Regions from separate parts of the Homo sapiens genome. Here all the other regions are linked to region 1. The links come from fine-mapping of genetic effects on gene expression. A gene starts in region 1. Each other region holds a variant in brackets. All regions are shown on one strand. Distances are between the middles of the regions.

The links. PIP is the estimated chance that this variant, and not a neighbour inherited with it, causes the effect. A credible set is the group of variants that fine-mapping cannot tell apart.
Region 2: its variant is the best candidate, but not a certain one, in a credible set for the expression of SFTPD in whole blood (TOPMed, PIP 0.71).
Region 3: its variant is the best candidate, but not a certain one, in a credible set for the expression of SFTPD in cerebellar hemisphere (GTEx, PIP 0.66).
Region 4: its variant is the best candidate, but not a certain one, in a credible set for the expression of SFTPD in esophagus mucosa (GTEx, PIP 0.86).
Region 5: its variant is the best candidate, but not a certain one, in a credible set for the expression of SFTPD in pancreas (GTEx, PIP 0.56).

Annotation. Positions count from the first base shown.
Region 1 is chr10:79,946,261-79,952,653 of GRCh38, forward strand. It overlaps SFTPD (surfactant protein D), which reads right to left and starts at 2,845. Exons shown (of 8, transcript NM_003019.5): 1 at 2,806-2,845; 2 at 201-402. The coding sequence starts at 399.
Region 2 is chr10:79,539,221-79,545,613 of GRCh38, forward strand. It overlaps the pseudogene RPS12P18. Among named protein-coding and RNA genes, the nearest start is that of SFTPA2, 18 kb to the right of the region's middle. The variant G/A (reference allele first, on the strand shown) is at 3,962.
Region 3 is chr10:80,000,179-80,006,571 of GRCh38, forward strand. No RefSeq gene overlaps it. Among named protein-coding and RNA genes, the nearest start is that of SFTPD, 54 kb to the left of the region's middle. The variant G/A (reference allele first, on the strand shown) is at 2,706.
Region 4 is chr10:79,970,627-79,977,019 of GRCh38, forward strand. It overlaps a transcript of SFTPD not described here. Among named protein-coding and RNA genes, the nearest start is that of SFTPD, 25 kb to the left of the region's middle. The variant C/T (reference allele first, on the strand shown) is at 2,908.
Region 5 is chr10:79,981,718-79,988,110 of GRCh38, forward strand. It overlaps a transcript of SFTPD not described here, the pseudogene ZNRF2P3 and the pseudogene DPY19L2P5. Among named protein-coding and RNA genes, the nearest start is that of SFTPD, 36 kb to the left of the region's middle. The variant C/G (reference allele first, on the strand shown) is at 3,632.

The sequences.
Region 1 (6,393 bases):
CAGTTGGGTGCTGGAGGAGGCACATGGGGGCTCAGCACAGCCACTTGTTTGCCAGCTGGTGGAGCAGTGTGGAACTCGCCTTCTTGGGAGGAAGAAACACGTCTCCAGACTTCCATAACAAAGTACCCAGAGTTGCTGGGCTAGTTACAGTTCCAATGACCATTCCTCCCCAGCAGGATAAGCCCAGGGCCCCACCCTACCTGGGTCCCCCTTCTCGCCCCGAGGGCCCTCTCTCCCATCCCGTCCATCGCGACCAGGCAGGCCACTCTCCACTGAGCTACACATGACCAGGGTGCAAGCACTGGGCATTGTTCTGTGGGAGTAGGTCTTCATTTCTGCTTCCAGGTAGCCCAGGGGCTGTGTGAGCAGGACCAGTGCAGAGAGGAGGAAGAGCAGCATGGCCTGGAGAGGTGAACAGAAAGAGAAAAGACATGCTTATGCTTCATGGACATGGTTTAGGGCTTGGCTCAGCTTCTAGAGGTGACAAGAAGCCCCCATTCCCTCCTTCTGTCCTCTGCTATGGGGCCTAGAGCAGCAGGAATCCAAAAGCAGTTTAAGGACAAGGAGGGCACAAGGTCTGGATGGAGAGCATGAGTTACCCAGCTGGAACTCTGACATAGGTTGACAGCAGCATCCCCCATTCCCAGGTGCTCATGTCTTCCCTTCTTGTGCCTTCCCTTGGGCACTAAGTTTGGCACAGTGGCTAGGATGTAGCATTCCTCACTGGGGCCATCTGTCACATCAAGAAGGGTTCATTGAGTGCCTCTGGGCAGGACACCCCCCGCCCACTCCCTAGACCATCTCCCTGTCTGTACCACTGAGGCAACTGGCTTAGCTCAGACAAGGCAAGCCTGTTTCTTCTCTCTTGCTGCCTTGCATGGACTAGCACTGGTGCTGATAGTGCTGGTCTGAAAATGCAGCCAGAGTCCTGAGTGCTTAGTAATGTCCTTCCTGAGCGCAGGCTGGGAGTGTGGTGCACATTTGCCTGGCAATTTGCCATTCCTCGAGCAGGTGCTGTCTCTAGAGAAAAGTCCCAGAGGGAACCCAGGTGAAAGTTTTCAGAGACACTAAACTAGCAGTAGGAGAAATCCTGAGACACCTAGAGTTCTTCTAAGACCTGAGAGGGTTTGGAAAAGAAGTATGTGGAGTCTGGGCACGGTCGCTCATGCCTGTAACCCCAGCACTTTGGGAGGCCGAGGCGGGCAGATCACTTGAAGTCAGGAGTTCGAGACCAGCCTGGCCAACATGGCAAAACCCCATCTCTACTAAAAGTATAAAAAATTAGCCAGATGTGGTGGTGCGTGCTGTAATCCCAGCTACTCGGGAGGCTGAGGCAGGAGAATCTCTTGAACCCGGGAGGTGGAGGGTGCAGTGAGCCGAGATCGTGCCACTGCACTCCAGCCTGGGCAAGAGAGTGAGACTCCATCTCAGAAAAAAAAAGAAGTCTTATATGGAAAGAGGACATGCCAGGTAGGCTCAGTCAGGCAGAAAGCTAGTGTTGTGGGTAAGCAAGAGCAACTACCCAACAGGGCACCCATTTACTATCTAAGATGGTCAGGAACTGAGACCAGGATAAGAGCAGGACCTGGGACATTAACTGTTTTGGGTATCTTTTCTCTCAATGAGAAACCGTAAAGTTATGAGAGTGAAAAGAGCTGATCAGATTCGCAGAGGCTAGGAACAAAGCCAGAGGGACTTGTGCAAAGAAAGGGGTCACCAGGCCAACTGGGGTGGTGGCAAGTGGGGGGCTTCCTGCCCAGAGGAGTGCCTTCTTCTTTGACTGCTGGTGATTCTGGGCTGTGGATGACCCCTATTTCTCACTAGCCTCTTTCAATTTTGAAATCACCACTTCCTTGGGTATCCTGGTAGTCTCTAGAAACACCTGGGTGAGCTCACTGCCAGCAGCGGCTACCTTGTTACACCTGTTCTGGCAGAGGCTCAATCATGAGCAGCAAGGGCCAGACCCAGGCCAGAGCAAGGGCATTGTTCTGTGCCCCGCAGCTCCCTCACCCCTCAGGCCCTGTGTCTGATTCTGGGGAAGAATGAAAGGCAATAGGCATTCTGTCTACAGGCTCAAGATGGCACAGAAGGCACCAGCAGCCACTGTGGCTTGAAGGACACTTGGAGAGGGCAGACCCGGGTTTTCAGGCCCAGGATTCAGATGAGGCATCTTAGCTGGGGCAGCAGATGGAGTGGGCAGAGTTGTGGTCCCCCTCAACCCCTGCAGTGCCCAGTTTATGCTAAGCTTTCAGAGTACAATTTCATTGAAAAGGCCATCTCCTCTGAACATGGATTGGAAAATCAGAGACCTACTCCAGTAAGTATATTTTTTAAAGTAAAGACCTGAAGCTATGAGAAAAACAGGCTTGCCCTGCTTTTCCACAGGCTGTTGGCACCAGGATGGGTTTAGAACCCCAGCCTGTGAGTGCCTGGGTTTGTCTCTCTTCCACTGTCCTTTCTGAAGAAATCAGTGCAGAAAAGAGCCTAGAGATAAATTAGCATTGCATTTTTCCACCTGAAGCTTCCACACTGTGGCATCCCAGGTCTAGATAGTGTCACACCCACTCTTCCACCCTGTGCACCCCCAGCTCAGAAAGCAAATCCTCCCCTGGGCTGAGGCCACTGAATAAGGGGCAGAAGAGCACCATAAGACCTCCTGTGCTCCCCACCTCCTGCGCCCATGCCTCCTAGACCAGAACAGCTACACAGACCCTCCACACCAATAGGTTGAATTGCCCAGGTCGGCAGAGGGATATTTATAGGATGTGGAGAAAATAAAAAGAAGGCAAGAACAGAGACACTTACAGGTTTCTTTTTGTTAGGCCCCAGGAGCTCCAAGCAAACTAGCCTTTGCTTGGCAGGCACTCACTATTTATGCCTGCCCTGTACCCTGAGCTGCCCAGCCCCAAAAACTCCCTTCAAGAAGTGGGGCAATTTTCTTCTTTATTGACTCACTCACTCTTATCCCCACCTGCGTTCTGGAAACCTGCCACTGATATTCACAATACTATGCACATCCATCACTATAGTTTGCAGAACACTATCAGGCCTTGAACTCATCTGCACCTTTCTCACTGCAGCTCTGTGAATTAAGTGGCATCATCAGTGTCTGTATTTTATAGATGTCTAGAAATCAGGAGTCCAGAGACCAGCAGGTTGCACAATGACCTACAGCGATTGCAAAAGGAACTCACAACTGCAGATCTTAAGAGCCAAGACCTGCTGTGTCCACTTCTCCTCTTCCTTTGTCTCAACAGCACTGCCCAGATATTGGGAAAGAGCTGAGAGCTGCTTGGAATACCTGGGCAGGGGTGGGGCAGGTAGAGTGGCTGCAGAGGCAGCAGCATGTGGGGGCAGCAGCTAGGGAGCTGCCACCTGGAAAGAGTTGCTCTTTTGCATGCTGCTCTAGGCCTCAGAGAGCCCCTGCCTTGCTTGTCTTTTGTGGGATGGATTTCCCTTAGCAGACCTCTGCCTTGCCTTGTTCAGGCTTGTTCTCCCTGCCATCTTAGCTGGTGTTTGTCTTGTGCACTGTTCTTGTAACTAGTTAGGACCCCTGAGCTGATGCTACTTTTATCCAATCTTTTAGTCTGTATGTATTTTTTTTTTTTTTGAGACAGTCTCACTCTGTCACCCAGGCTAGAGTGCCATAATGCATTTATAGCTCACTGCAGCCTCAAACTCCTGGGCTCAAGTGATTGTCCTGCCTCAGCCTCTTTACAGGTGAGCATGATCACACCTGGCTAATTTCTCTTTTTAATTTTTTACAGAGATGGGGTCTCACTCTGTTGCCCACGCTGGTCTCAAACTCCTGGTCTCAAGCAATTCTCCTGCCTCAGCCTACCGAAGTTCTGAGATTACAAGTGTAAGCCATCATACCCAGCACCAATCTGTATCTTTTAAGTGGAACATTTACTCCATTTATTATCAAGGTTAATATTGATATGTGATGTTTTGTTCCTGTCATGATAATTGTTACCCAGTTGCTTTTTAGTCTCAATTATGTAATTGCTTTATATAATCTGTGAGTTTTTCACTTTAATGTGCTTTTATGATGAGGAGTATTGTCCATTCATTTCCATGTTTAGAACTTTAAGCATTTCTTGTAGTGCTGGTCTTGTGGTGACAAATTCCCTTTGCATTTGTTGTATGGGAAAAACTTTATTTCTCCTTCATTTATGCAGCTTAGTTTAGCAGGATACAAAATTCTTGGCTGGCAGGATTTTTGTTTAAGTAGATTAAACATAAGACCCCAATCTCTTCTGGCTTGTAAGGTTTCTGCTAAGAAGTCCATTGTTAGTCTGTTGGGTTTTCCTGTATAGATTAGACATTTCTCTCTTGCTGCTTTTAGGATGTTTTCCTTCACATTGACTTTGGATAGTCTGATGACGATATGCCTTTATGAGGTTTCTCTTGTAAAGCATCTTCCAGGTGTTCTCTGAGCATCTCCTATCTGGATGTCTAATTCTCTAGCAAGACCAGGGAAGTTTTCCTGAATTATTCCCTCAAATAGGTTTTCCAAGCTTTTAATTTTTTTTCTTCTCCCTCAGGAATGTCTATATATTGTATATTTGGTAACTTTATGTAATTCTATATTTTTCAAAGTCTTTGTTCATTTTTAAAAATTTATTTTTTCTGTATTTCTGTCTGACTAGGTTAATTCAAATGACTGGCCTTCAGGCTCTGAAATTATTTCTTCTGCTTGGTCTAGTCTTTTGCTAAAAGTTTCAACTATATTTTATAGTTCCTTCAATAAATTTTTATTTCTAGAAGTTCTATTTGGTTTTTGTTTTTTAATCTCTATCTCTTTTGTAAATTTTTCATTAATATCCTGAATTATTTTTCTGATTTCCTTATGTTAGTTTTCAACTTTCTCTTGTATCTCATTGAGCTTCCTTACAACTCATATCTTAAATTCTTTATTTGTTATTTCAAAATTTTTATATTGGTTAGGATCCATTGCTAGGGAGCTGGTGTGATCCTTTGGGCATGTCAAAATACTGGTTTTTCGTACTTCCAGAGTGCTTATGCTGATTTCTTCTCATCTAGAGAACCCGTTACTTCTTACTTTTGAACTTACTCTCATTTGAATGGGATTTTTTCCCCCTTTGAAGGTGTGACTGTATGTTGTGTGTGATCATTTGGCTTCAATTTTGGGTGCCTTCCGTGGGTCACAGCTCTGTATGAGTTCCTTGGTCATAGATAGCTTTTGTGTGGTGGCTTTATTATGCTGTATAGATAGCTTTTGTGTGGTGGCTTTATTATGCTGATTGTAGTAGCAATGTATTGGGCATATGAGCAGGAATACTACCTTCTGAGGGGCTGGGAATGTGGAAGTCTCTGAAAGTTTATCTCATTCCCCAGCACTATACCCTCTGTCAGCCTGTTTTTTATTTGGTTGTGCAATTCAATCTGCATCCCAATAAAAGCTGGCTGTGGCATAAGCTGATGGGTACTTGGTCTTTGTTTTCTGGGAGGGGATCTCTGTTGTCACAGGCAGTTGGCTGGTCTGTGGATGGCCTGATTCCCTGAAGGGAACACAAAGCTTTGGAGGGGGACACAAAACTGAGGGGCACTAAACGACCAAGCTCACCCTGGGAAACCCCAATTATGAGCAGAAGCAACTGCCTTGATGGGAGTGGAAATGGGAGCTCATGGTGAAAGGCACTGATGTCTCCACCAGAGTGGGAAGGAGTATACCAGCTCCACATCCTGGGAAGGCAGGAAGGCAATCCACTTTCCTAAAACACCCTTGTCCCGGAGCTTGTGACCTTCAGTTCAGATAGACATTGTCCTTCATCTCCAGGCTGCAGTGTGATGGAGGTCTGCAGAAAACACCCGTCCTGTGGCTACCACCAAAATGGCCTTGGGATAGAACCTCTTCCCTCAGCAGCTCTGATATTCATCTGCATTCTGCTATGGGAATGCTGCTGCTCCATATGGGGAGGAGGATAAACTCTGCCCTTCGTGCAAGGCTTGGCCAGCAGGCACCCCATCAATGGGAGTGCAGCTGCCCCCAGGAGCCCTCAAAAGCCATCCCCAGGTGCACTTGTGCCAGCTCCCAGTAGGGACAGCCAACGGTCTATCTGGAGCATTGAGTGAGGGGGTAGGAGAAGACTCCCTTTCCATGTTTATTCCCAGGCACCAGTGTCACCTGCCTACTGGTGCAGAACCACACTCCTCCCCTTCAGACCCCAGAACCATGCCTGTGTCTCTGCTGGGAGGGGCACAGCCAGCCTCTTCTCACACGTGGGGAGCTCTTAGGCAGAGGAGAGCAAATGAACTGGTTTCTTTTATCCAAAGGAGTACGTTGGCACAGACACTCTCCCTTCTCCTAAGAGCTAGACTTCTAGGAATTCCATAGCTCCCCAGGGTCCCACCCGTCCCCTGTGGTTG
Region 2 (6,393 bases), 410 kb before region 1:
CGAGATAAAGGCCCTAAGAAGATGGGTCCTGATGCTCTCAGGGAAAATAACGATGTTGGGGGGTGTCTGTGGTTGGGGAGGAAGGAGGGATTGCCAGGAACACATGGAGTTCCAGGGGCCTTCTTCACTCTGACAATGACAATGCGGCCGAGGGAGGGGGAGTCTTACCCAGAATACTCTTAGCTCCTGGACTTTCTCCTTACTCTGGTAGATGTGGGATGGAGGCAGAAAGTCCCACTCATGCGTCCTACATTTTTTGAGAATCTAACGAAATAAATTTCGCCAGGTGCAGTGACTCAAGCCTGTAATCCCAGCACTTTGGGAGGCCGAGGCAGGTGGGTCACCTGAGGTCAGGAGTTTGAGACTAGCCCGGCCAACATGGTGAAACCCCATCTCTACTAAAAATACAAAAATTAGCTGGGCATGGCCTGTAGTTCTAGCTACTCGGGAGCCTGAGGCAAGAGAATTGCTTGACTCTGGGAGGCGGAGGTTTCAGTGAGCCAAGATCACTCCACTGCACTCCAGCCTGGGCAACACAGTGAGACTCTGTTTCAAAATACAATACAATACAATACAATACAATACAATACAATACAATACAATACAGTACAGTACAGTACAGTACAGTACAGTACAGTACAGTACAGTACAATAAAAGCATGACATGTTAAAAAAAAAAAAAAAAAAAAAAAAGACCGGGCTTGGTGGCTCCTGCCTGTAATCCCAGCACTTTGGGAGGCCGAGGCAGGTTGGTCACCTGAGGTCAGGAGTTCAAGACCAGCCTGACCTACATGGTGAAACCTCATCTCTACTAAAAATACAAAAATTAGCTGGGTGTGGCGGCAGGAGAGCCTGCAATCCGAGCTACTCAGGAGGCTGAGGTAGGAGAATTGCTTGAACCCAGGAGGCGGAGGTTGCAGTGAGCTGAGATGGTGCCACTGTACTTCAGCCTGGGTGACAAGAGCGAAACTCCATCTCAAAAATAAATAAGAAAAATAAATAAATAAATTTCATTCCTCTGCCCACTGCCAGTATCCAGTCCCGCTGATGAGGCTGGGGTGAGGTGGGGGGTAACTTTTTAGCACCTGGGCCCTTACGTCCAGCAGGGCTGTGAACAGGGACTTTTTGTGCCAGTAACAGTAGAAAATACGGCAACTGGTGTTTGCCACTATCAAAGAGGAACTTGGAGTTTTGTTGAAGGAGCAAAATTGTAACCACCCAAGGGGTTCACCTTGCCTGCTGCCTCGACAGAGCCGATTGATCAAGACAGGGGAATTGCAATAGAAGAAGAGTAATTCACGCAGAGCCGGCTGTGCGGGAGACTGGAGTTTTATTATCACTCAAATCAGTCTCCTCGAGAATTCGGGGAGCAGAATTTTTAAGCATAACTTGGTAGGGGGAAGCCAGTGAGCCAGGAGTGCTGGTTGGTCAGGGATGAAATCACAGGGAGTCGAAGCTGTCTTCTTGCGCTTCGTCAGTTCCCGGGTGGGGGCCACAAGATCAGACGAGGCAGTTTATCCATCTGTGTGGCGTCAGCTGATCCAGCAAGTGCGGGGTCTGCAACATGTCTCAAGCACTGATCTTAGAAGCAGTTTAGGGAGGGTCAGAATCTTGTAGCCTCCAGCTGCGTGACTCCTAAACCGTAATTTCTAATCCTGTGGCTAATGTTAGTCTAGTCCCCAGACAAGAAGGAGGTCTGCATTGGGAAAGGGCTGTTACCATCTTTGTTTAAACTATAACTACAAACTAAGTTTCTCCCAAAGTTAGTTCAGCCTACGCCCAGGAATGAACAAAGACAGCTTGGAGGTTAGAAACAAGATGGAGCTGGTTAAGTTAGCTCTCTTTCACTGTTTCAGTCATAATTTTGCAAAGGTGGTTTCAAAATGACTATCCATGAGTTTGTAAAATAACCCAGGATGCCTGTTGTTCACAGCACATAGCCTGCTGTGTGACTAAGCTGATAATCAGCTAGACTTTGGGGAGAGAAAAATGCCAAAAGAAAATGGCCTTGCCCTGCTAGAGAGTCTTCAGGTCTCCCTTTGGATGCATGAGCAATATGGAAGGGAATGGAGAAGGAGGACAAAGAAAAGTCACCCTCCATAATTGGGACAGGGTTTGGAACTCTTGCGGCCAATTCTTTCATGCTGCCTGGCCCCACCTGCCCCGGAGACTTCTGGTGCTTAACGGAGGCTTTCTTTTGGCTGCCCTGGAACTGTGAATGGGCCTGCCTTGGATAATTTTCCCTCCAGGCGCTCTCTACCTGGGGTCTGTGAACACCCTCGAAGTAGTATCCACCATGAATTGTATGAATAATTACACATATGTGCACACTCATGAATACATGGACCCATGCATATGTGTTCACGGCGTTCTACAATTGCCCCCATGATATCTATACCAGTTACAACTTATTACTTCTCAGCTCCATATTCACCCACTAATACCTGCTCTGTGATAATGGACAGGATTCCCATGAGCATTTCTCCTGTACACTAAGCATAACGTGAAGCTTTCTCAGCGGAGGGTGCTGAGAGAACAGTGCAGGTGAAAGGAGTTTCTCTTCCTGGGTCTGGCTGGTGTGAGGAGATCCAGTGGTACTCTGCTCCAGTCACGTGCCCAGAAGGTCCCAGGCAACTAGTCTTGTCCTGGCATGGTGATCGCCCTCTTAGTATCCTCCCAACACAGGCACCACGCGATCCATGCCTTCTGTCCGCACTGGAGACCCAATCATTCTACATGCTCATACACTCAACCCAGCAGTGTGGCTCGCATGGGCTGTGGAGGTTTGTTTCCTGCTTGTCCAATAATTGCAACCAGCTCTAGACCATGCAACCCAGCAAATCTCTCTGCCATGTAGGGGGCTGCAATGATACCTTCTCCGACAATGTCTGATCTCCAGCCTGGGGAGGGGGCCCCATTCCAAGCTTGTCCTTCTTGGGTACTCTTCTCCACCTGTAGGGAGAGTAGCCCTATAAGGTTCTCTTTATATCATATAGTTGCTCTTTTATCATAGCTGAATAATTCTTTATATTAAACTTCCATTGCATAAACCACTTGTGGTTTCTATCTCTTGATTGAAACCAGTCTGATACAGTACTTGTGGCCCCCAAAATATTGAGATCCACCATACCTAGTCCCAGGTAAAACAAAAATATAAAAACTCTCAGCTCATTGCCTAGAACATAGAACACAATCCTTTTAAGCAGCTGTTACTACCATGTGTTGGAGATGGAGGTCAGTTGCCGCATAGGGTTGGCAGCTCTGCAGAATCACCTTAGACATTCCCTCTTGCCTGTTTAGCTTGAGCTGCATTCTCTCTGGTATAGCAGTAAAATAACAAGTGGCTAAAGCTATCACTTATGGAGCACACAGTTCATCTCAAGCAGTGGGCCATGAGTTTTGTATGCACTATTTTCCCCATTTTGCAGTTGTAAAAGATGAGGATTAATGAAGTTGGAAACTTGCCGAAGTTTTCACAGTTGACCCTGGAAGAGCTGGAATTTGAACCCAGGTGTATCCAATTCCAAAAAACCGAAGTCTTCACCACCACAATACATGCCTTTGTAGCATTTATTTCTGGGTCAAGCTCTGTGCTAAATGGTTCACAGTGGTTATGTAATGTGTTTCCTGTCACAGCTGTGTTTGTAAGCAGTGTTTTGTTCCTGTTTTATAGATAAAGAGACTAAATGTCTCACCCAAGGCCTCTCAGTTAGTGAGAGGTGGAGGCAGGATTTGAAACTGGTTCCCTGACTCCAGAGCCCACACTGCTAATGTCTATTATACTGCTTCCCTGGCTCACATAATAGAAGTGAATTTTGGGGTGTGAATATACCTACCCCTGGGGACTGTGATGGGTGAAACAATGGAAAGCACATGGCATTTGATTCACATGCAGTTCCTGCTGCTCCCAACAATGCCATCCATGTGTGTTAATAAAGGATACAGAGCTGGTGAGGAGAAG[G/A]GTGTAGGTATAGGACCAGGTGTGCCATGTCATCACGCTAACGTACCTAACCCTAACCCCAGCCCTAACCCTCAGGGGCAGTGATGGCCTACAGGCACCTGCATTAGGGTGGTTTGGAGGATCCATGTTCATCGCCAACCCTCCTCTAGGGAGAGGGTTCCCTGACACTCAACATCTGGATCTGCCCATGGCAGATCGAGCCACTACGGCATCTTGCCTATACCCCAGGCTCTGATGCCACCTCACTGACTGTGCCAACCCGAGTGATTAGCCCTCTTTGTGTGGACTCATGGTTGTTCACTGGTTTGGCTCTAAGACCCTAGCTGCTGATGGGGAGAGGGATATATGACACATTGTGAGATCCAGAATATTTGCAGGTTTCTAAGAAAAAGCACAACTATTCCAGATACTGAGGACCAAAGAGCATATTCTCCTCTAGGTGTTCATAGAGAGGCTTCATAGGGAAGCCACATCCTCAACAATATCCCTGCAACAGATGGGGATCAGTGTTCAAAACCATGCTTTGTATAATGTGTATCATGTCCCTCAACCAAAGCACAAAGCATTAAAAGTCATTCTTCAAGGAGTCAGTGGGAAGCAGTCAAGCTCACAGGTTCATGGCTCTGGCTAAATTGGTAATAGATTTAAGAATATTTGTCCAGAGGATTGAATACAGCATGCACTCTGCAGGCACTTATCCATGAGTAGCATTTCTCTTAGCCAAGCTTTTGAAAAGTATAGTGTGGCTCTGAGGTTGAGATTCTACTTGGAATGCTGGAACTTTCCATTGCCAATTAAGAGACGAGCCATATACCTTAATAACAAACTGAGCCGTGGCTTGACATAGATCCTCTTATGAAAACTCATGCACCAGAAAGAACATTTCTCTCTTTCCCTGCTGCCGCCAAGCGCCAAGCCCACCTTTGTGTGCTTGCATCCAACTGTGATAAGCCTATGTATGTCAAGTTGGTGAAGGCCCATTGTGCTGAACACCAAATCAACCTAATCAAGGGTGATGACAACAAGAAACTAGGGGAATGGGAAGGCCCCTGTACAATTGACAGAGAGGGGAAACCCTGTAAAGTGGTTGGTTGCAGTTGTGCAGTAGTTAAGGACTATGGAAGGAGTCTCAGGCCAAGGATGTCATCGAACAGTACTTCAAATGCAAGAAATGAAGAACTAAATCTTTGCCTCACACATGGAAAGAAAAGAAAAAAGAAAAAGAGAGAGAGAAAGAAGGAAAGAAAGAAAAGAAAGAAAGAAAGAAGAAAGAAAGAAAGAAGAAAGAAAGAAAGAAAGAAAGAGAAAGAAAGAAGAAAGTCAACGTGTTTCTGAAGAGAAGGCCAACCCACATCCCCTCCAAAGTGCATCAAGGGAGTCCCTGCAGGCAGAGCCAAGATTCTCTTCAGGAGGAAATTTGAGAGTTCCCTAACAGGGCAATGAATGGGTAACTGATTCCCTACAATTCCACATCATAAAATGCAACGGCAATAAAAATAGCCCAGAAAAAATGTAAAGCAGGCATGTAACTATATATCTTGTTTGGCTACACATACACATAAGCATGTGCACACACACACATACCTGCGGCCCATCTAATTTTGAGCAATAAGCCCTGTTAAAACTGGTTGTGAAATGTACACCCAAAGTAACTAAATGATTTATTGTTTATCATTATTTCCTATAAATCTCCCTAAATTTGGGGGATTTCCATTAAAATGATTATTTCAGATCCAGATTTGGTAGCCCTTGTTTCTGGATGTCATTAGATAGCAGTATTCATTGTCTACTAAAACTACTCCTAGTCCATGATACCCACATCAGGTTATTTGCATCTGAGAGAATGCTTGACCTTCTGTGCTCCACTGCAGAGCAGGGTGGCGGGGCCCTACCATATGCAACAACCTGCAGGGCACAGATACTGATCCTTTGGAGCTGATGCTGGTCAGTGGCCTGCACTGTGCCTAACAGTTATGTGGGTCAGTAGGAAAGCAAACTCATGGGCTATCTCAATATGGTTTCAAGTTAAAAATAAAAGGATCCAGGGCACATCTTTGTTTTACCCACTGGAAATTACAAGCAGGATAGTTCATATTTTTCCTTATATATTGTGTCAAAGGCTGGAAGAGGATCAAGAAAAGTCACAAGCCATTTAATATGATTTTTGGCAGGTGTTGTCACAAGATTATATAAATTACAACAGATGACTATGTTCTCAGCCTGTGAGCTGTGAATATAGGTCAGGCTTGCAAATTATTAAGCAAAGCCATGCAAATGGACGTTGCTTGCACATGCTAGAATAGGACGACTAACTCATTCTGGTTTGGCAGAGATTTTTCTTATTTTAGTACTTGTCTTAATCCAATAAGTGTTGCTATAGAAGAATACCTGAGGCTGGGGAATTTATAAAGAAAAGAGGTTTATTTGGCTCA
Region 3 (6,393 bases), 54 kb after region 1:
ACATAGGCACCATCTAGTGGTATTGGCCTCCTTGCTTTTTCTTAAACATCTCAGGCTCCCTCTCACCTCAAGGCATTCCAACCTCTGCCTGCAAAGCTTCCTGACCTCTCATGATCCCCATATCCCTTGAATCACTCCTTCATCCCCCTCTCAGCCTTTGCCAGGTGGCCTTTTCAGATAGGCTTACTTTCATCTACCTATTTAAAGCTGCAATTCTCCAAAAATTCCTAATCCCCCTTATTTTATTTCCTTTTTTCACAATGCTATATTTTCTCAGTAATAATTTCTATTTCACTTATGATTACTTTCTGACCCTCTCACCCCTTCCCAAACACACTAAATTGAAAGCTCCAGAGATTGTTGGATTTTGTCTATCTTGTTTACTGATATTGTCTCAGAGCCTAAAATAATGCCTTACAAAAGTAAGCACACAATGAATATTTGTTGACTGGATTAATTAGAATGAATAGGTATGGATCAGGCCCAAAGTGTCAAGCACTGACGTAAAAGCCCTGAGCAAGATAGGCATGCCCCAGAAATAGAAATAGCAAGGCAGAGACTATGAGTGGAGTAGAGCGAGTGCATGCAGGGAAGGAGGAAGCGAGGTTACAGAGTAGATGGAGGTCAAATCATGAAGGGCCATGGGGCCAAGCATGGTGGCTCATGCCTGAAATCCCAGCACCTTGGGAGGCCGAGGTGGTGGATCACCTGAGGTCGGGAGTTCAACCTCAGCCTGACTGACATGGCAAAAAGCCATCTCTACTAAAAATACAAAAATTAGCTTGGCCTACTGGCACGTGCCTGTAATCCCAGCTACTGGGGAGGCTGAGGCAGGAGAATCACTCGAACCCGGGAACAGAGTTGCAGTGAGCTGAGATAGCGTCACTGCACTCCAGCCTGGGCAACAGAGCAAGACTTCATCTCAAAAATAATAATAAAAATAAAATAAATAAATAAAAATAAAGGGCCATGAAGCCATTGTAGGGCTGACTTTTGTATGAAATGGAATCAGAGGGAAGGTCCAGAACTAGGTAAGGCAAGTGAAAACTCACCTGGAATGCAGAAAGAGACCCAGTAATGAAGATAAAAAGTATTTTAATCTAACAGTTTATAAAGAATGAAATTGACAAACTATAGCCAACACAATGGATATTTGTTGTTTATAAATAAAGTTTTATGAAAAACAGTGCCAGGATATGATTTACCAGTGAAGTGGCTTCACTTGTGCAAGTTAGAGTTAGATCCTGATATTATTTAAAACTTCGATATCTTGTTCATCGTGAATTTTTGCACAAATTTTTAGTTTTTTAAATGTTGCCATAATATATTTATTGGATTTCCAGTTTCTGATCTGGCATGTAAGATGCTTGGAGGTCATCACTCCCATCCACAAAACATAAAAAAAAAACCAGTTAAACTGAAAATCAATAACTCTTCCTAGATTTATGAGAGAAGTGAGGTCACAGGCAAACTGCTGCCCTTTAAATTGAAGACAGACAGGAAGATGCAGAGAATCAAAACAAGGAGCAGAAACTGACTAGCAGAAACCATTGGCAGAATAGGAAAAGCTGCACTGCAATCAAGAGTTGCTGGAAGCACAGTATGGCCAGGCTTGAGAGTTAAAAATGCCAGGATAGTCCAGCCTTTGTTGGCTTTAGTCCCAAGAGTCCTACCAGGTTCTCAAAGTAAAGATCAGAGAAAATTCTCCTTGTGCTTTATGTAGGATGAGAGGAAAAGTAGACATTATGAAATATGCTCAGAGCATTCTCTTCTTCTTAAGGGATGCCCTCGAAAGAACCTATTTCACCAGAGCCTTCCCAACAGGGATTTTACCAGAACCTAGCTGATGTAAGAGAAGCAAAATTGCTAACTGCAATTGGGCAAGAATATGAAAGTAAAGGTGTTATATTGGAAAGGAAAAAGTGAAAATTTTCAGATGACATGACCTCTCATAGAGAAAATCCAAAGGAATCTAAAGACTGTTATAGCAAGTAAATGAGGTTGTAGAATGCAAGATCAAAAATTTTAAAAATCAGGCCAGGTGTGGCAGCTGACTCCTGTAATCCCAGCATTTTGGGAGGCCCGGGTGGGCAGATTGCTTGAGTCCAGGAGTTTGAGACCAGCCTGGGCAACATGGTGAAACCCTGTCTCTATTTTAAAAAAAGAAATAAACAATCAGTTTTATTTCTGTATACTGGCAATGAACAATTCAAAAATGAAAATAAAATAAACCTATACACAATATCATCAAAAAGAATAAAATACTTAGAAATATATTTAACAAAAAGATTCAACATATGCACACTGAAAACTTCAAAATGTTATTAAAAGAAAATATAAAAGATCTAAATAAATGGAGAAATATCCCATGTTTATGGATTGGAAGACTTAAACTCCCAAAAAGAGATCAACTAATACTCCCAAAAGAGATCAACAGATTCAATTCACTTCCTATCAAAATTTCAACAGCCTTTTTGCAGAAATTTACAAGCTGAACCTAAGATTCATTTAGAAATGCAATGGACCCAGAATAGCCAAATTAATCTCGAAAAAGAAGTACAATATTGGAGGACTTACGCTTCCCAAATTCAAAACTTACTACAAAGATATAACAATCAAGAAAGTGTGGGCTGGGCGCATGGCTCACGCTTCTAATCCCAGCACTTTGGGAGGCCGAGGCGGGCAGATCACGAGGTCAGGAGATC[G/A]AGACCATCCTCGCTAACACAGTGAAACCCCGTCTCTACTAAAAAAAATACAAAAAATTAGCCAGGTGTGGTGGCAGGGGCCTGTAGTCCCAGGTATGCAGGAGGCTGAGGCAGGAGAATGGCTTGAACCCGGGAGGTGGAGGTTGCAGTGAGCCAAGATTGTGCCACTGCACTCCAGCTTGGGTGACACAGCGAGACTCTGTCTCAAAAAAAAAAAAAAAAAAAAAAAGAAAGAAAGAAAGAAAGTGTGGTACTGACATAAGACAAAACTTATAAATCAGCTGAATAGAATTTAGAGTCCAGAAATAAACCCATACATCTATGATCCATTGAGTTCAACACCAATGCCAAGACAAATTCAATGGGAAAAGTATAGTCTTTACAAGAAAAGGTATTAGAACAACTGGCTATCCACAAGGAAAAGAATGAAGTTGAATATCTATCTCAAGTTACATACAAAAATTAATTCAAAAGGGAAGGAAGGCCTAAGCATACAAGTCAAAACTATGAAACCATCAGAAGTAAGCTTACCTGACCTTAGATTAGGCAACAGTTTCTTAGACATGATACCTAAAGCAGAAGTAACGAAACAAAAACTAGATAAATTGGCTTCATCAGAATTAAAAACTATTGTGCATCAAAGAACACTGTCAAGAAAGTTAAAAGTCATCACATGGTACGGGAGAAAATATTGATAAATCATTTATCTGTTATGGATTTAATATGCAGAATATACAAAGAATGGTTAAAACTCAACAATGAAAACACAAACAGCGCAATTTAAAAATGGGCAAAATGACAGGCCAGACCCAGTGGCTCATGCGTGTGTAATCCCAGCATTTTGGGAGGCTGAGGTGGGTGGATCACTTGAGGTCAGGAGTTTGAGACCAGCCTGGCCAACATGGTGAAACCCTGTCTCTACTAAAAAAATACAAAAATTAGCTGGGCATGGTGGCACATGCCTGTAATCCCAGCTATTTGGGAGGCCAAGACATGAGAGTCATTTGAACCAGGAGGTGGAGGTTGCAGTGAGCCGAGTTTGTGTCACTGCACTCCAGCCTGGGCAACAGAGCGAGACTCTGTCTAAATTAATTAATTAATTAAATTAAAATGGTCAAAATGAAAATTTTTTCTGGAAATAAGAAACACAAAAGCCAATAAGCACATTAAAAGATAGTCAACATCATTAAACACTAAGAAAATGCACACCAAAACCACAAAATGAGGCCTGGCACAGTGGCTCACACTTGTATTCCTAGCCGAGGCAGGAGGATTGCTTGAGGTCAGGAGTTCAAGACTAACCTGGCTAACACAGCAAGACCCCATCTCAAAAAAAAAACAAAAAAAAAAAAACCCACAAATGACACCATGGCACCACTCACTAGAGTGACTATAAGTTTTTTTTAAAACAATGTGTTGGCAAGGATATAAAGAAACTGAAGTGCTTATACATCTCTGGTGAGAATATAGAATGGTGAAGCTGAAGGTGGAAAACAATTTTGAGTTCCTCAAAAAGGTTAAATATAAAGTTACCGTATAACCCAGCACTTCCCCTAGTAGATACATACCTAAGAAAACTAAACAAGCTGGGCATGGTGGCTCATGCCTGTAATCCCAGCACTTTGGGAGGCTGAGGCGGGCAGATCACCTGAGGTCAGGAGTTCGAGACCAGCCTGGCCAACATGGTGAAATCTCATTTCTATTAAAAATACAAAATTAGCCAGGTGTTGTGCCAGGCGCCTGTAATCCCAGCTACTCAGGAGGCTGAGGCAGGAGAATCGCTTGAACCCGGGAGGCTGAGGCTGCAATGAGCCGAGATCACATCACTGCACTCCAGCCTGGGCAAGATAGAGCAAGACTCTGTCTCAAAAAAAAAAAAAAAAAAGCAAACTGTAAACCTATGATGACACAAAAGCTTGTACACTAGTCTTCATAGTAGCATTATTCATAATAGCCAAAAGGTGAAAATAACCCAAATATTCATCAACTGAGGAATGGATGAACAAAAAGAACATTAAAAGGAATAAAGTACATTGGGGGAGGTTGACATGGGGAGGGATAGCATCAGGAGAAATACCTAATACAGATGACGGGTTGATGGGTGCAGCAAACAACCATGGCACATGTATACCTATGTAACAAACCTGCAGGTCCTGCACATGTGTCCCAGAACTTAAAGTATAATTAAAAATTTTTAAAAAGGAATAAAGTACAATACAATATGGATGACCATTGAAAATAGCAAGCTAAGTGAATGAAGCCAAAAACAAAAGGCCACATATTGTGTCATTCCATTTATATGAAATGTCCAAGGCCGGGTACAGTAGCCCATGCCTGTAATCCCCACACTTTGGGAGGTCAAGGCAGAGGGATATCTTGAGTCCAGGAGTTCGAGACCAGTCTGGGCAACATAGCAAGACCTTGTCTCTACAGAACATGAAAGAAAGCCAGGGAGGATGGCTTGAGTGCTGTTGCCAGGGAAGGAGAGGAATGTGGATGTGGAGTGGCTGCTAATAGGTACAGGATTTATTTTTGGAGTAAAGAATATGTTCTGAGTTTAGATAGTGGTAATGATTGTACAACCTTTAGAATATACTTAAAGATGTTGAATTGTATAGTAATTTAAATATATAGCATTTAAAATGGCAAATTTTATAGTATACAAATTATATCCCAATTTTTAAAAAAATGACTATGCCACTACTTACTGAATCCACAATTTCCCCTCCAGAGGCTAAAGAGTGATTTCAGTTCCAGAGGCAAAGTCCCCACATGGTCACCATGTGCTTCTTCAAAACTGACAAAAACTGGACCAGGACTGGTCTGCAAGAAGGGCAAACTTCTCCTTGACTCTTCCTTTCATGTTTCTCAGACCCGAGTTCAGAGAAAGATGGGGCAGGCTTGGGGGCCTGGGGGTCTTCCGAGAGGGTACAGAGGTCTTTCTGGAAGGGATGCAGGACGCTGGAGATCCCAAGCCTCAGAAGGAACTTTGACCTCCACCGGGTGCTCACTGTGGGACACCTTTCCGCTCCTGCTACAAAACCACTCAGTGCAGGATGAATCCTGGAGCCGCAGAATGGCTTACTGATCTGCCAGGGCCTCCCAGGAGAGTACAAATGCCTTGAACCTCCAGGTCTGGGTACGGAGCCTCTTCAAGTCTCTTCAGCCTTGAACAAAAACCCAACAGGACCCAGGACCTCACCCACCTTCTCACTCACATTCTACCATCCACATAACAAGACTTAAAGGTGTTCAATGCTGGCTGGGCATGGTGGCTCATGCCTGTAATCCCAGCACTTTGAGAGGTTGAGGTAGGCAGATCACCTGAGGTTGGGAGTTCGTGACCAGCCTGGCCAATGTAGTGAAACCCCGTCTCTACTAAAAATACAAAAATTAGCCAGGCGTGGTGGTACACGCCTGTAATCCCAGCTACTTGGGAGGCTGAGGCAGGAGAATCGCTTGAACCTGGGAGGCAGAGGTTGCAGTGAGCCTAGATAGCACCACTACACTCCAGCCTGGGCAACAAGAGCAAAACTCCATCTCAAAAAAAAAAAAAAAAAAAGGCCGGGTGAGGTGGCTCACGCCTGTAATCCCAACACTTTGGTAGGCCGAGGTAGGTGGATCATGAGATCAGGAGATCAAGACCATCCTAGCTAACACGGTGAAACCCCATCTCTACTAAAAATAC
Region 4 (6,393 bases), 24 kb after region 1:
GCTATTGAAATAGGATTGCTTTTTTATTTCTTTTTCAAGTAGTTCATTGTTGGCATATGGAAATGCTGCTGATTTTTGTCTGCTAATTTTGCATCCTACAACTTTACTGAATTTATCAGTTCTAAGAGTTTTTTTGTAAATTCTTTAGGTTTTTCTATTTATAAGATCATGTCATCTGCAAACACATAAAATTTGATTTCCTTCTTTCCAATTTGGATGTCTTTTAATTATTTCTCTTACCTAATTGTTCTGCCTAGAACATCATCCAATACTGGGTTGAATTAAAGTGGTGAGAGTGGGCATCCTTGTCTTGTTCTAGTTTCTAGAGGAAAATACTTCAGCTTTTCCCTATTCAGCATAATGCTACCTGTGGGTTTGTTATATGTAGTCTTTATTGCATTCATGTATGCTTCTTTCATATCTAGTTTGTTGAAGATTTTTATCATGAAAGGATATTAAATTTTATCAAATGCTTTTTCTGTGTCTATTGAGACTGTCATTTTCTTTTTGTCCATCATTTTGTAAGTGTTATGTATCATGTTGATTGGTTTGCATATGTCAAACCATCCCTGCAATAAATCCCAATTGATTATGGTGAATGATATTTTTAATGTATTGTTGAATTCTGTTTGCTAGTATTTATTTTGAGGAATTTTGCATCTCTGTTCATCAGAAATACTGGCCTATGGTTTTCTTTTTTTGTTGTGCCCTTTTCATGTTTTGGTATGAGGGTAACGTCATCATAGAATGAGTATAAAAGAATTTCTTCCACTTCAATTTTCTGGAAAAGTTTGAGAAGAATTGGTATTAGTTCTTTCTTAAATATCTGGCATAATTCAGCAATAAAGCCATCAGGTCCTTGGCTTTTCTTTGATGGGACACTTTTTATTAGTGATTCAATCTTGTAGCTCGTAATTGGTCTGTCCAGATTTTCTACTACTTCTTGGTTCAATCTTGGTGGTTGTATGTGTCCAGAAATTTTTCCATTTCCATTAGGCTTTCCAATTTATTGGCATATAGTTGCTCATAATAGTCTTTAATGACCTCTTCTATTTCTATGGTATCAATTGTAATGTCCCTGTTCATTTGCGGGAATGCTCTTATATGTGACTTTATGCTTTTCTCTTGCTGTTTTTAGATTCCCTCTTTGTCTTTGAATTTGATAGTTTGAATATAATGAGCCTTGGAATTGACCGTTTTGGGTTGAATCTATTTGGAAATGTTTGACCTTCATGTACCTGGATGTCTATATCTCTTGCAAGACTTAAGAAGTTTTTAGCTATTATTTTGTTTAATAGGTTTTCTATGCCTTTGTTCATCTTTTTTCCTTCTGGAATCCATAGGAAGATGACCCTCCACCTCCCAAACTCCCTTTCAATGAGGATTAATTTCAGACCCTGTTTGACATGCTGCAAAGCTCACCAGGGCATCATCTTTAGGAGAAAGGTATCAGTCTTATTACACCAATTCAGGCCTCCTCTCTTGGATGCAAAGTTAGTATAATGCAAAGGATGGGGGAACAAGAAACACAATAAATTGGAGAGCAAAACTAAGGCAAGAAGAAGCCACAGGCACTTTAAAACACAAAGAGGGCTGGGCACTGTGGCTCACACCTGTAATCCCAGACCTTTGGGAGGCCAAGGCAGGCGGGTCACAAGGTCAGGAGTTCAAGACCAGCCTGACCAACATAGTGAAACCCCGTCTCTACTAAAAATACAAAAAATTAGCCAGGCATGGTGGTGGGCACCTGTAATCCCAGCTACTCAGGAGGCTGAGGCAGGAGAATCACTTGAACCCAGGAGGCGGAGGTTGCAGTGAGCAGAGATCACACCACTGCACTCCAGCCTGGGCGACAGTGTGAGACTCTGTCTCAAAACACACACACAGACACACACACACACACACACACACGGAGCATTTTGACTCAGTCCTGTGGATAGCACCTAACTTCCATCCTCACTTCATGACCTAGATAATTGTTTCTAAGCTCCATATTGCCCCTAGAGAAAGCATGGGAACCAGGCTGTGAATGATTTCCCTGAATCCTGAATAACAAAAACATTTTCATGGCAAATATGATCTCCTCTCCATGACCATCACTTCCTTGGAAGTCTGTACCACGTACAAACTGGAACCAAACCAAGGTAATGAGAAAAGGTGAAAAGGGGACTTGTCCAGACTTTTCTCCCTTTTGGCAAGTTCAAAAGTCAAACCTGAAGGCGGGCAAATGGGCAGAACATGGGAGGATGCTAGATTTTCTCATCCTGTGAATTCATGACAAGGAGTTTTTATCCTAGCTCTGAGAGTTCCAAATGGGAACTGGAAGTTACTTCACTCTCCATCTCTCAAGGATTGACTCAATGAGCTTATATCCATCCATAATACTGAGCTGTTATCATGTGTGAGTTTCCCTTTAAACATTGAAACAGAAAGAAAATGACAGTAAAAGTTACAATAGCCCCTCCATGAAATCATTAAACAAAGTCTATGAACATTAATATTCCCACTTTGTTAGCATTTTTGTTAGTATTAACATGCATATCATGAAGCTTCCCTTTTTATTATAAATAAATTGTACATCAAGTTCAAGCCTCTTGGTTGTGTTTCTTCATTTGTGTTTTTTCTTTTCTATTTTTGTAACTTCCAAGGATACATCATGGATCTTCAAGCTGTAGGGGAGTTTCCACTGGTACATTAAAAATATCTTTGAAGGCCAGGCGCAGTGGCTTACATCTGTAATCCCAGCACTTTGGGAGGCCGAGGCAGGTGAATCACAATGTCAGGAGTTCAAGACCAGCCTGGCCAACATGGTGAAACCCCATCTCTACTAAAAATACAAAAATTAGCCAGGCGCAGTGATGGGTGCCTGTAATCCCAGCTACTCAGGAGGCTTAGGCAGGAGAACTG[C/T]TTGAACCTGGGAGGGAGAATTTGCAGTGAGCCGGGATCCCGCCACTGCACTCCAGCCTAGGCGACAGAGCAAGACTCTGTCTCAAAAAAAAAAAAAAAAAAAAGTCTTAGAAAACGAAATGTTAATTTCCTTGTGTTATTTTATCAATATACCCTCTGTCCCATCTTTTTTACAATTCCATTAGTCCTTTGCATTGTCTCCTTTCATATATACATGTGAGAGCAAGGACAGGGTACCCAGCTCTAGTTCATAGCTTGCATCTACAAAGGTGCCAGTCTGGAATAACACCACAGTGTCATGCAGTGAACTTCTTGGGATGACTCTGGATGCATTATGCCAAAGGGTTTCTTTGGTTTGTGTATGCAGAGCACAAGTGCCAGAAAATTCTAAACTCATTTTTTACTGGTGGATTACTCCAAGTAGAGGATACTTTTCCACATAATGCTGATTACGTTAACTGTGAAATTAGGATCTCTGTGTGTTTCACAGACAGACAGACACACACCCACACACACACAAATAGTAGCATCACAGATTCCCCTTAAATAAGCTGAAAAATTTATTTGACAGCATTAGGACTATGCCGTTAGTTGTTTTATTCTCAATTATACCCCCAGATATTTTTTATTTTTATTTATTTATTTTTTTTCTGAGACAGAGTCTTGCGCTGTTGCCCAGGCTGCAGTGCAGTGGCACGATCTCGGCTCACTGCAAGCTCTGCCTCCTGAGTTGACGCCATTCTCCTGCCTCCGCCTCCCGAGTAGCTGGGACTACAGGCACCTGCCACCACGCCCAGCTAATTTTTTTTTGTATTTTTAGTAGAGACGGGGTTTCTCGATCTCCTGACCTCATGATCTGCCCGCCTCAGCCTCCCAAAGTTTTGGGATTACAGGTGTGAGCCACCACACCCAGCCACCCCCAGATATTTTTTATATGCCATCAGAGATGAGACAGTCTAGTATTTCTAGTCATGCCTATATTTTCAAGAGTGATGTGATCATAGTTCTCTGGTTCATTAAAAAAATCTGATATTGGCCAATTTTAAGATACATACAAAATATATCTCTATGTATATATACCTCTCCATCTATCTCTAAATGCATATAAAGTGTATCTCTCTGTGTCTATATCTACTTCAACAATCCCGTCACCTCTCCTCATCACACCCTTCTATTCTTGTTTGTATATATACAGATGTGCCTACAGCTAATGTTGAAAGAGGAGGAGTCTTTTCTTTGGCAGAAATGCCGAGACCAGCTCGGTCAGGGAGACCTCTAACCCAGCAGTGCTAGAGGAATTAAACATACACACACAGAAATATAGAGGTGTAAAGTGGGAAATCAGGGGTCTCACAGCCTTCAGAGCATTAATTAGCATTGTTTCTATAGACATTCGATTAACTAAAAGTATCCCTTATGGGAAACAAAGGGATGGGCCGAAATAAAGGGGTGGATCTGGCTACTCTGAGTAATTTAAAAGGAAAGGGCTCAAATGTAGCTATAATATTTCCCTGTTGATCTGGGGGGGTGTATTCCAACAGGGAATCACCAAGCCTCTAAATCACTCTCTCATCTAGCTTGCTGAATTCCTGCCTGACTAGAACTAAGAGCAGTCGCTCTAGGTGCTGCTCGAACAGTCACTGGGGCAACTACTTTTTGCCCAGTGTCCTCCGGAAAAGAAAGATCTGGAAGGTCATTTTCTTCAAAATAATAAGGAGGGGGTGCAGAAGGGTAGGGATGAACCTCTCCCTCCTTTGCCACTTTAGCTTCAGCTGGTAAATAAAACTGCTCTGTAACCTCTTCTGTTACTTTGTTATACTCTCCTTCCTCCTCCTCATCAGTGTGAAAAAGTTCCTAGGTGGAATGAACCAGACCCCACACTTGTCCCATTGTTACCCTGATGCTTCCAAGCTCCCCTTCTTACTCACCACGGGGATTGCTTTAAGAGTACTCAGGTGTCCTCCAGCTTAGTTCCACATTCTCCAACTGTTGCTCCGGCGACCCTTCGACCTGGATTTGAGTCCCCATGATGGACACCACTTGCTGAGACCAGCTCAGTCGGGGAGACCCTAACCCAGCGGCACTAGAGGAATTAAACCCACACACACAGAAACAGAATTGTAAAGTGGGAAATCAGGGGTCTCACAGCCTTCAGAGCTGAGAGCCCTGAACAGAGATTTAACCACGTATTTATTAACAGCAAGCCAGTCATTAGCATTGTTTGTATAGATATTCGATTAACTAAAAGTATCCTTTATGGGAAAGGAAGGCATGGGCCCAAATAAAGAGGTGGGTCTGGCTAGTCATCTGCAGCAGGAACATGCCCTTAAAGCACAGATTGCTCATGCTATTGTTTGTGGCTTAAGAATGCCTTTAAGCGGTTTTCCACCCTGGGTGGGCCAGGTGTTCCTTGCCCTCATTCCAGTAAACCCACAACCTTCCAGCGTGGGTGTTATGGTTATCATGAACATGTTACAGTGCTGCAGAGATTTTGTTTATGGCCAGTTTTGGGGCCAGTTTATGGCCAGATTTTGGGGGGCCTGTTCCCAACACAGAAGTGGTGGGCTATACCTTGTGAAACAAGAGTTCTGGATACAGTGGCCTTAAGAAAAACAAGTTTCTCTTTTGGCAAAAGAATCAAAGTGATGGCCTTTGGTTCTGAAAGGAAAGAGTGACTCCAGTAGCATGAGGACTTTAAGATTTGGGGAAACTTGAATTGCCAAAGGCAATAAATGGTGCTGAAAGCTGGAGTTCAGCTGGTTTTGTGGTCCTGGTCAGCCAGCCCAAAGAAGCCTGAGATCCAGGCTTGCACAGTGGATCCTATCCCATCACCTGACAGCCTGTGCAAAAACACATCTGCATGCTCCCAGAAGTCCCTGGCTACTGAGTCAATCATATCTACTGCTCTGGGAAACCACAGAGTTTGGGAGGGTGAGTGATAAAATGGCTGTTGAAGGAAGTCTGGTGCCAGAAGAGTGATGGCACCACCACTGCCACTGCTGCCAGAGTCCAAGTCCAGGCTGGAAAAAAAGGGCTTTTCTCAGTAAAGCCATCTGCACCTAAAGGGAAAAACCCTGAGGATTCAACAAGAGCATAATGAAGCTTTCCACCTCCCCCTTCTGAGAACTGGGGACAAGAAGTCTTCAAAACCAAGTTATGGGACTAGCAGGCCACTTCTAGTTCAAGTGGCATGGGTCATTGGGTGCTGCCTGGCAACCATCCTCTCAGAGTGGGTGATATGGTTTGGCTGTGTCCCCACCCAAATCTCAAGTTGAATTGTATCTCCCAGAATTCCCACATGTTGTGGGAGGGACCCAGGAGGAGGTAATTGAATCATGAGGGCTGGTCTTTCCCATGGTTTTCTCATGATAGTGTATAAGTCTCATGAGATCTGGTGGATTTATCAAGGGTTTCTGCTTTTCCTTCTTCCTCATTTTCTCTTGATGGCAGCCATGTAAGAAGTGCCTTTCTCCTCCCACCATAATT
Region 5 (6,393 bases), 35 kb after region 1:
TCCCACTCAGCCGCCAGCAGCCCTGGGAGCCGGAGGATGGCTGCGGTAGCAGCCACAGCCCCAGAGGAGGCGGTGCCCGACGCCCGGGGCGCCCAGCGCGCCCAGACCGGCAGTGGCCTTCATGGCGCACCAGAACCTAAACCAGAGGCAGCCACACGGACACCTGAGCCGCCTCTTCCTGCTAGAGCCAGCGAGGTGTGCCCGCAGCCGAGACCCCTTCCTCTCCACGTCTCCTCGTCTCCTTGTCTCCCGTGCCCGCGTCAGGCCGCCAGCCTCGCCCACCTCCCCAGGAAGAGCGCGCCGGGCGCCGACTTCCCCTGGGGCGGCGGCCCTGGACGTGCGGGGGGTCTCTCTGGGCCGGCTGCTGCGCCTTGGCCCTGCCCTCTAGCTCCCGCGCTCGCTCCCGCCCTCCTGGCTCTCCGGGCGCGCCTGGCGGGGCAGGGCGGACATGGGCACCAAGCAGAGGAGCCGCACGCGCACGTACTGGGGCTCGGATCTACCTTCCAGTAGCAACGGAGGAGCCAATGGGACCGCGGGCGGCGGCGGGGGCGCTCGGGCCACCGCGGGGCGGTTCCCGGCTCAGGTGCCCAGTGGGCACCAGCCCAGCGCCTCGGGCGGCGCTGCTGCGAAGGCCCTGGCAGCCCCGCGCAGCCGCTCCCGCGGCGGGGCCGTGGGGAGCGTGGCTTTGGGGGCCCGCGCAGCGCAGTCCTCCTTCAGCATGCCGAACAGTAGCAGCGGCCTATAGGGCTTACAGGACTCGGTGCACAGCAGCGCTGAGGAAGGTGGCGCGGCCGGTCCAGGCCGGTGGGCGGGAGCCCCGCCATGCAATGCCTGGTGATCAGCACCTTCCAGCTCACCTCTTGCCGCCCATGTTTGGAGGTGCTGAGAAACATGTCTGTTCTTCAAGAGCCAGCTAATCATTTTTACCAAGTATGATAATTAGCTGCCCTGATTCAGATACCATTTCCTTATTGTGACATAGGGGTGACTACTGTCAGAAAACCCTGAAAATGTTTTAAAACAAGAACTAATGGAGCTTGGCGATTCTTGCCACGCTTTTCCAGAGCTCGGACCTTGCTATTATTTGCTACTGGGCACCCACAAACCCTTGCTTATTAAACTGATCTCCTTCAAGACTCAAGAAAAGCGCCATGCGGCTCCCTCCTAGGGCTCTCCTGCCCTCTCCACACCAAAGCCCAGAGTGGTCTTCCTGGAGAACTGAGGCGCCTGCAGTTTGTGCACCTTTTCCTGGAGCTGCGCCAGGAAATTATGTAACAACTGGAAGCAGCCCAGAAGGGTCTTGGCAATCACGTCCAGCTGCAAGCCATTTGGAGGTCTCAGATTGCGCACCTCCTCCCGCCCCCTGGCAGGTTCCCTCTGCCTAGGGTCCAAAGCTACAGAGGCAGCCCGGACTCTTCCACCTCCTCCTCCATCTCTGGCTCCCTGGCTTGGGAGGCCCCTCAGCTTCAACTGGCTGGGGCGGGAAGATTGAAATGGCTGTGGAGCCGCTGCTTTTGAGCTTACTCCTCGTTTGCCCAACTATTTTCTCATAGTTCCTGTTCTGGTGGAGCTGGGTCAATTTCCCACGCAGCCCAGCCCAGTAGGGCGAGGTCTGGAAAGGCCTCACTGGCCTCGCAGCCTCAACTACTTGTACCGGCCACCGCAGCGGCTGCGGACCTCCCAGTCGTCATGGCGACTGTGAAATGTGGGGTGGAGGGCGTGCAGTCAAACCATTTCGCCCGGGCAGTCCCTGCATGTCCCCCAACGTGCTCTCCAGCGGCGCGCAGCACCCCAGCCTCCGCGCGTCCCCGAGCGTGCAGCCTTCCGTGAGGGCAGCCCCATGCACAGCCCCCCAAACCCTCCCCCACGCCTGCAGCCCCCCGATGTGCGCAGTCCCCAAGCCCGCACGTGCAGTTCCCACATTGCGCGCAGCTCCACCTACAGCCCCCCACACTCTCCCAGCCCCACTGGCGCAGAACCCATCACCGCTCGCCCTTCATGCGCTTCACTGGGCATGCAGCCCCGGGAGCACGCAGCTCCACGCAGCCTCTCCGCATGCTCCCCAGCGCCTGCGGCCTCCTCTTAACAACTTTTGCCAGGACCATACATACCTGCCCGTGGGCTGAGTGGATTGGCAATGACAATGGTGACAGCTGACATTTACTGAGTACATGCTGTGTTCCAGATGCTACATCTCCATTTCTTAGATGAAGAATCTAAGTCTCAGGGCCTCATCCAAAACCATACAGCTAATAAGCAGTACAGTTAGGATCTAAGCCCAGGGAATTTTACTCTAGAACTGACAGTATTAATCACAGTGCTCTCTTGGCTTATATTTCTAAGGCATATGCTGTAACCACTATATATATATATGTATATGAGATGGGGTTTCACTCTGACACCCAGGCTGGAGTGCAGTGGCGCGATCTCGGCTCACTGCAACCTTCGCCTCCCAGATTCAAGGGATTCTCCTGCCTCAGCCTCCTGAGTAGCTGGGATTACAGGCACGTGCCACCATGCCCGTATAATTTTTTGTATTTTTAGTAGAGATAGGGTTTCGCCATGTTGCCCAGGCTGGTCTCAAACTCCTGACCTCAGGTGATCCACCCGCCTCGGCCTTCCAAAGTGCTGGGATTACAGGCGTGAGCCGCTGCTCCCTGCCTATAACCATTCTTTTTTAGGGAGGTGTGGTAGATGGTGCTACCCTGGATCTGTAGTCAGGATTTGAAGAAGGGAGAAGGTATTTGCTTGTGAAGAAGGCACCATGCATTGTGCTCAGTAGTGGTGACTGGAGAGAGAGCTGGGAGGGGCACAGGCAGCAAGGTCCCTGCTTAAAGGCAGTTATCTAGTTTGGAGAAACTTAGCTGGATAGTCAGTTCTAACATGCATTTGGCAAGCACTTATCATGCACTGTAAAGAGGCAATGTGTCTAGTTTGTTAGAGGGTGGGCTCTGGAGTCAGACTCCTGGCTTTGAACCCCAACTTCCCTGCCATTTTCAAATGACACTGGAGAAGTCACAAAACCTATTTCTGTCTCAGATTCCTCCCCAGTAAGAGTGGGATGTTAATAGTACCTCCTTTGGCTTGATATGAAAATTCAATAAGTTGATATATGCAGAACATCTTAGAACAGCGACTACCTTAGAGTAAATCTTCAGTAAGTATAAACTAATTATACTATGTTTTTGGCACTGAAGCCACGTCGCAGTGAGTAAGACAGTTCCTGACCTCAAGAATCTCAGAGTCTAGTACTGGAGACAGGTAAACAAATACTTGCAAAGTGTGTGGTGTGAGAGAGGTGTGACGGGTGGGCGGGAGCCTGCAGCAGGCACGTCTGACTCATCCTAGGTGTGTATAGGGCAGAGAAGTTAGTCTAGGCTTTCTAGGGGCACTGATGTCTGGGCCAAGTCTTGCAGGGCAGGGAGCTAGTCAGGGGGAGCTGTAGTGATCCAGCTGGGGACTGAGCAGGAGGTGAAAGTGAGCAGCTCGCATCTGTAGCGTTGCCAGATTTAGCAACGGAAAGTACAGGATGCCCTATTAAATGTGAATTTCAGATAAAATAATAACTTTTAAGAATAAGTATGTGTCATGCAATGTTTTTAGTATAAGTATGTCCCAAATATTGTATAAC[C/G]ACACAAATTATTTGTTATTTATCTGAAATTCAAATTTCACTGGGCATCCTATGAAAAGTCTGGCAATTTTATCTGTCCACATTTAGGAAGGTGCAGTGTGTTTCAGAGTAGCTGGAGTGATGCAAGGAGGAAAGGCAGAGTGGGCCGGATGGGGCTGAGAGGCATGCAGGAGGCAGTTCATAAAAGACCTATTCTATGTTAAGGGATTTGGATTTTATCCTGAAATTAATGATGAGCCCTTGGAGAGCTTTAGCCACAGGGATGTGAAACTGTAGCGATATCAGTGTCAGGCATGATGAAATGAGTGTTAGTTTCTATGGCTGAATAGCAAATTACTCCAAATTTAGAGTCTTAAAACAGTAAACATTTATTATCTCACAGTTTCTGTGTCTCAGGAATTCAGAGGCAACTTAGCTGGGTGGTTCTGGCTGAGGTTTCTCATGAGGTTGTAGACAAGATGATGACCAGAGTGGCAGTTATCTAAAGGATACACTGGAGCTGGAGAATTTGCTTCTAAGGTGACTCACTCTAATGGTTGGGAAGGCACTGCTGGCTGTCAGCAGGAGAGCTCAGTTCCTTGCCACAGGGACCCACCACAAGACAACTTGAGCCTCCTCACAACATGATAGCTGCCTTAGTGATCCGAGACAGCAAAGTGACCTTAACTTTGGAAGTCATATGCCACCTTGTCATTCCCATATATCCTAGTGCTAACACAGCTCAGCCCTGCTCAGTGCAGAAGGGTCCTACACAACGATGTACATACAAGGAGGTGGGGATCATGGGTCATCTTGGAGGCTGCTTATCTGGGATGGGAGGCTTACATGGTGATGCCTGTGACCTTGGAAGTGGAGGAGAATGATGGGCGTACAGAAGAGTGGAGAAAGGCTGGGAGGAATAGAGATGTGGCAGAGGAGGGGAGGCAAAGAAAAAAGAAAGGGGGAAGGGATGTTGGAGCAGATTGTAGTCTGTCTGCAGCAAAGAGCATCACCAAAGCCATTCTAAGGGAACTAGATCCACCTCCTTCTCTCCTGGGCATGCCCCAAAGATGGTTGTGGCCTCCAGAGAGGACCCCAAAAGAAAGCACAAAAACTAGACAGTGGGAGGGCAGTACCCAAAAGCCCTGAGTTTCTGAGCAAAATATTGAAAGTTTCTATGGTGAAATAGGAAGGTAACACGCTTAGGAAGAAAAAAGTGGTAATGATTCAAGGAAACATAATCACACACAGTTTCAGTCTTAATGGACAGGGGAGGACCCATAAAAGTAATCTATCATCTATCAATTATATCAACTGTCTATCTGTGATACCCTACCCTGTTTTAACCTGAGTGACTCTCTCTTAGCTGAGAGAGCCGGACAGACTCCATTTTAGCTTCTTCACTTGCAGCCCCCTTATCCCCCCTCCCTTAGGGGAATAACTAGTGCAAGCTGACTCCAAGCACATCCAGGAATGCACTTACTGATAAGATATTGAGGCAAGCTGTACCAGCAGCTGCTGGGGATGTGCTCAGTGGATGGTACCCAAGCCCCTGCATTTATCTCTTTGTGATAGTTTAAGCCCCTGCACCTGGAACTGTTTATATTTCTGTAACTATCTCTGTAACCATTAATTTTTTTAAACTTTTTGCCTGTTCTGCTTCCGTAAAAATTGCTTCAGCTAGGCTCCCCATCCCCTATTTAGATCACAGTATAAAAAGAAATCTAGCCCCTTCTTCAGGGCCGAGAGAATTTTGAGCTCTAGCCATCTCTCGGTTGCCGGCAGTAAAAGGACACCTGAATTAAAAAAAAGAAAAAAAGAAAAAGAAACTTATGGGATACCAAGCAGATTTAACCCAAATAAGACTACCTCAAGATATTTAATAATCAGATTTCCAAATGTCAAAGATGAAGAAAGGATCCTAAAAGCAGCAAGATATAAGAAAAAGATAACATATAAAGGCGCAACACATCTGGCAGTAGATTTCTCAGTGGAAACCTTACAGGCCAAGAGAGAGTGGCATTATATATGTAAAGTGCTGGAGGAAAAACTTGTATTCTACAATATTAAATCCAGTGAAAATATCCTTCAAACATGAAGGAGAAATACTTTCCCAGACAAATAAAATCTTAGGGATTTTATCAACACCAGACTTATCCTACAGGAAATGTTAAAGGGAGTTCTTCGATCTGAAAAAAGAAAGGATGTTAACAAGCAATAAGACATCTGGCTGGGCGCAGTGGCTCACGCCTATAATCACAGCCCTTTGGGAGGCTGAGGCGGGTGGATCACAAGGTCAGGAGTTCAAGGCCAGCCGGGTGAAAGTCCGTCTCTACTAAAACTACAAAAATTAGCCAGGTGTGGTGGCAGGCAACTGTAATCCCATCTACTCATGAGGCTGAGTCAGGAGAATCACTTGAACCCAGGAGGCAAAGGTTCCAGTGAGCTGAGATCATGCCACTGCATTACAGCTTGGGTGACAGAACAAGACTCCATCTCAAAAAAAAAGAAAAGAAAAAGAATCTGAAGATACAAAACTCACTGGTAACAATAAGTACATAGATAAATATAGAATATTATAACACTGTAATTGTAGTGTGTAAAATACTAATGCCTTGAGTAGGAATACTAAAAAATGAACCTATCAAAAATAATAAGTATAACAACTTTTTAAGACACAGCAAGTATAATAAGATATAAATAGAAACTAAAAAGTTAAAAAGTGGGAGAATGAAGTTAAAGGGTAGAGTTTTATTTGTTTTCTCTTTGCTTGTTTGTTGCTT